Linked DNA regions of Homo sapiens: region 2 is linked to region 1. Evidence: fine-mapped expression QTL. Tissue or cell type: lung. Region 1 holds a variant in brackets; the other region holds the start of a gene. All regions are shown on one strand. Distances are from middle to middle.

Region 1 (2,500 bases):
GGGAGGCAGTTCTTGCTGGGTGGTGAGAATGTTTATGTAACCTGCAGGTAGCATGGGCTGGTTCTCCTGTTCTTTATTCTTTTTGTGGGAAGGTGGAAGTGGGAGAGGAATTGAGCCCCATCCAACCCACCCCTATTCAGAACTGGAAAGAGTACACTCAAGAGTGGATGATTGCCTCTGAGTATTCCGTCACTCAGGAGATGGGGAAGAGCTACATACGTCTGTTTTCTGAAAATTATGGTATTTTTAGCTCCAAAAGAGTTTAAAGCAGATTTAAATGCACAGTGGATAATGATAACTTTCACATCTGAGCGATCTCGGAGGACATCTGCTCGGATGCTGTTCAAACACGCTCTGACTGGCTCAGTATCTTTATTTTTCTTTTGACAATGGTAAGTGGTGGAGGGAGAGAATGAGGATTTCAAGATCTGTCATAAGGCGACTAAACTGGGTTGCAGCCCAGGGTCCTCTTAGAAGAGAGGAGTTTACCCTGCACTAGGTCTCCTGATCTCCCCTGGTGGGAAGGTTAAATGTCTAGTAAAAGCTTCTAGTAGAAGCTTTGGGGTGGTCTAGACTCCCATGCCCTGCAGTGAAGGGGCCACAGAGGAGCTGTGAGGGAGCACCCAGGCACCCTCATGTGGCTTTTCTGAGTACAGCAACATAGAAACACTGCTTTGGAGCTCAGGGCCTGTCCATACAGTCCTGCTTGGATGGTTCTGGTTGCAGAGAGCTCCTGCTAAATCTTTCCTGTTGGGTGAGGTCAGCTCTTCCTGTTAGAAAGTTCTCATCTGGACTCTGCGGTGGCCTCTCTGTGCCTTTCACTCACTGACCCTAGAGCAGCACGGTGTGGCGTGATCTTCTCGGGCAAGGTCCTTACTCTGTGTGCTTCAGTTTCCTATCATGTTCCCATGATAATAGGACCTGCCCTGTGACAATGTTGTGAGGTTTAAATGAGGTAATAATATATGAAGCTCTTAGAACAGTTCAGTAAGGTTTGCTGTTGCTATTTTTTATTACCTTTTCTTCTCCTAAGCTACTTTTTTTTTTTTGAGACAGGCTCACTCTGTCACCCAGGCTGGAGTGCAGTGGCATGATCTCGGCTCAC[T/G]GCAACCTCCGCCTCCCCAGCTCAAGTGATCCTTCCACCTCAGCCTCCCAAGTAGGTGGGACGAAAGGTGCATGCCACCATGCCCAGCTAATTTTTTGTATTTTTGGTAGAAACAGGGTTTCACTATGTTGCCCAGGCTGGTCTCAAACTCCTGAGCTCAAGCAATCCACCCACCCCAGCCTCCCAAAGTGCTAGGATTATGCCCAACCTAAGCTACCGTTTTTACCTCCCAAGCCTTGGTGTAGGCCAGGGAGGCACTCTCCTTTGACAACCAATTGCAAAGGGTCAGGCAGGTCTTTTTGACCGAGGTTGGAGGAAGGGCAGATTTCCCACACTGGAGCAGCAAGGCACAGGGGACAGAGCGGGCTGCAAAGCCAGGCACCAGGGGCACATCCAGACTCCATCTTTTACCAGTGAGGTGTTCTCAGTGGGCCACTAAACCTCTCTGAGCCTCAGTTGTGCCAGTTGGGAAATAGGAGGATAGGTACATACTTCTGAGTCATGGGAATGATGATGAGGCAGTGTGTAACTAGCCTGGGCTGGCTGAAGGCACGTAATAAATAAGTGCCTCCCCTCCTCTGTTGACAGGAGCCCCTTGTTGAACAGAAGTCCATGTTCTCTCCCATTCAGCCCATAGACATTTCCTGGGGTTGGTTTTTCATATAACAGTTTCAGAATGGTTCATGTTGTGATGGAGGGGGAAATAGGGACACAGTCCAGGGGGCATCAGAGAGCAATTTCAGGAATCTGACCAGTTGGCCAACAGCCTAAGCCTCGCCACATTGCATGGCAACTTCAATAAAACCACTTGGCCAGCTCACCCAAGGGCTGGCCTCTGGGCTTCGGCAGTCAGACCCGCTGCATGTCCCCAGGTGTCAATCTGTTGCCCCAGTACTGGTTGCAGCCCCAGTGCAGGCTACAATTGCACCAACTTTCCTGAAAGAATGTCAATACTAGAAGGGCCTTGAAAAGTCTTGTCCAAGCCCTGAATTTTACATCTGAGGTGAAGATGGCCGGAGAGGTGGAGTGGTTGGCCTAGGTCACACTGTGACAATGTAGAGGCTCTCTGGATGTCAGTGCCGTGTACCGCTTCCGTCTCCTTGTAGCCTCCTTAGTCTGGCTGCTATGCTGGGAAGGGCGTCCAGACCTAGGTGGGCCCAGCCCCAGGTGTTCTTATGGTCCCTGCTCTTAGCCTCTGCATAGCACTCATCCTAAAAGGTCTGGCTGTCCCATCCTGACTCGGCAACTCACCCCTTCTAGAAGCAGAGCTGCAGAACTAGATCGCACCCGACCCCCCAGCATCTCTCCAGGCTCCTTTCACACGGCTTCTGCCTTGCCTCTTCCATGATGCTGCCTGTTGCTGAGAGTGTGTAAGCCGGGAATTACACACTGATG
Region 2 (2,621 bases), 48 kb before region 1:
ACTACCTCTTGAACTTTAAAAAATTCTGCTCCAGCCTGGGCAACAGAAGGAGACTGTCTCAAAAAATATATGTCAATAAGTAAATATCCTGATGCCTGGATCCCACCATGGGACATTCTGATGTAACTGGCCTGCAATGGTGTCTGGGCATGGGGATTTTTAAAAGCCCCAGTGACTAATATGCAGCAGAGTTTGAGAACCACTGGTTTAAAGGACTTTGTCCTACTCTGACAGCGTCTAGCACAGTGCCTGGCAGAGACTGATGCTCAGAATGAACAAACTAAGATTCTATTTGTCAAGGAGGAGAGCATTGTGTTACTCACAAATGCAAACAAACCACAAGCAAGGGATAAGTCAGGCCCTGGGCAAAGACAATGGTAAAGCAATTCCTGCCAAGTAAGCGTGTGAGGGTGACACCCACTGAATGCAAGCTGTTGTTACCTTTTTCCCTTTATTTTTATGTATTTATTTTTTGTTGAGACAGGGTCTCACTGTCCTTCAGTCTGGAGTGCAGTGGCCCTATCCTGGCTCACTGAAGCCTCGACCTCCTGGGCACATGCAATTCTCCCGCCTCAGCCTCCTGAGTAGCTAGGACTATAGGTGCGTGCCACCATGCTTGGCTAATTTTTTAAATTTTTGTACAGAGGGGTGGGGGGTCCTAATTATGTTGCTCAGGCTGGTCTCGAACTCCTGGGCTCAAGTGATCTTCCTGACTCGGCCTCCAAAAGTGCTGGGATTACAGGTGTGAGCCACTGCACCAGGTCAAGTTTCTATCTTGACTCTAACTAGAAAAGGTGTCATCCTTGAAATGCAGGTACTGTTCAGCCAAATTCCAAAGTCCTCTGAAGATCCAAGTTCTCTAAGAAGTTCAGAGGTGCCAGGCTGTGTCTTGTTTGTGCAAATGAAACAGAGGATGACAAGGTCGGGTGGGCATTTCGAGCTCTGCCCCAAGTCTGGTCGGCTTGAGAGTCAACCTAGGAGCCTCTCTCGGCTCCAAATGGCAATGTGGCAGCCCTTCCCGAGTAGGGAAAAAGGAGCGTGTAGGGGGCACCACGGCAAGCTGGTTGGGTCTGCTCCACCCATGAGGATGGAGTGCAGCCTCCACCGGGAACCAGGGGCGCGAGTCGCTGCTCAGTGGCCTGGGCCTGCATGTGGCGCGGCGGGAGCTGCTGCCTAGGGCCGCGCAGCGACGGGGGGTGAGGACTACATGTCCCGACGTGCCTCGGGCAGGGCGGGGCGGTGCCGGAGCCGGGCCTGGAGGCCGGCCGGGGCCAGGCGTGCGCAGTGGTTCTTGGGAGTGGCGAAGCGGGTCCTGCCCCGCTGTCAGCTGCGGCCCCCGGCGCCGGGCGGGGGTGGCCGCGACCATTGGCGGAGAGGCGAAAGGGGCGGGGCCGCCGCCAGCCGCTGCGGGCAAGGCTGAACAGGCGGAGGTGGGCAGCCGGCCAGGGAAGCACGGTCCAGGCGGCTACATTCGGCCCGGCCATGGCAGCGGCGCCCCTGAAAGTGTGCATCGTGGGCTCGGGGAACTGGTGAGCGGCGGCGGGCTGGAGGCCGGGGCTCCGCTTCCAGGAAGCGCCTCTCCCGGGCGGTGAGGGCTGCGCGCCCCATGCTGCGGCGTGGGCACCGGGCACTGCGCGCAGGGAGGCGGGGTGGGCGACCTCGTTGCTGGGCTGGGCACCGTGCGCCCGAGGAGGCCGCACCGGGGCACTCGCTCGGGAGGCGCTGGGCTCGCGTGCGTGCGGGGGACAGCGCGGAGAGAGGGCACCCCGAGCACGCGGGCACCTGTCTGCGCCCCCGTTACTGAGCGCACAGAAGCCACCTGCTTGCCACGCCTGGGTGTTTTGCACAATATCCTAAGGGCGTATTCCGTTCTCCACGGCGGATCTCCTGGGTCAAGGACTTGGTGGAGGCTCGAGCATTCTTACTGCAGTTTCGGTGTTGAGGAAACCGAGGCGGAGAGGGCTAAAGGGCTCTTGCTGCCCAGGTCACGGGCGGGGCATGCTCTGCCCTTCAAGGTGCCCGTCTCGCCCCCGCTTCTGATAGGTCCACTATCTTAGGCGCGTCGTATCAGGAAGAAAATCCAAGTTTCAACAGGCCGCTCTCCCTGAGGCGTTGAGAATTCTCCCTTGCCGAGATGTTTGCGAAGCTTTGCGTCTCTTTGGGGCCTTATTTGACTTTAACATTTTATAGAGCACATTAGAAATGTCAGTTCTTCTAGTACCCTTAATCAAACGTACACTGTGGGATTCTCTGGTGTGTTTGGGTGAATGTAGAGGTGGGGGTGTGAAGGGGGAAGGAAGCAAAGTGTAGCATCTGGTGTTTCCAAGCCTTTTTTCATTGCTGTACACTCTGCCACATTGGAGGGACTGGTGTACAATAGTTAAGAGTGATGATGTCCTTTCAGTGCTTCTGTTTACCGGTTTTTCTGTGGCGTGACAGGCATCAGAAGTGCTGCAGCAGCTGGTCCTAGGTAGTTGGTCTTAGTTTTACTCTTTCAAGACTTGGCCCAGAAAGTACTTATTGAAGGAAACCTTACCTGGTTCTTCACTTTTCCATCCCAGCAAGGCCAGTGGCCTCTCTCTGTGTCCCTATTGCTGGCCTGCATCACTGCATTATAAGGA

Evidence for each region. PIP is the estimated chance that this variant, and not a neighbour inherited with it, causes the effect.
Region 2: GPD1L starts here. The variant in region 1 is fine-mapped to the expression of GPD1L in lung (TOPMed, PIP above 0.99).

Annotation. Positions count from the first base shown.
Region 1 is chr3:32,153,719-32,156,218 of GRCh38, forward strand. All of the region lies in intron 5 of GPD1L (glycerol-3-phosphate dehydrogenase 1 like), which reads left to right. Among named protein-coding and RNA genes, the nearest start is that of GPD1L, 48 kb to the left of the region's middle. The variant T/G (reference allele first, on the strand shown) is at 1,106.
Region 2 is chr3:32,105,230-32,107,850 of GRCh38, forward strand. It overlaps GPD1L (glycerol-3-phosphate dehydrogenase 1 like), which reads left to right and starts at 1,391. Exons shown (of 8, transcript NM_015141.4): 1 at 1,391-1,529. The coding sequence starts at 1,483. RefSeq lists silencers at 1,124-1,533, 1,654-1,793.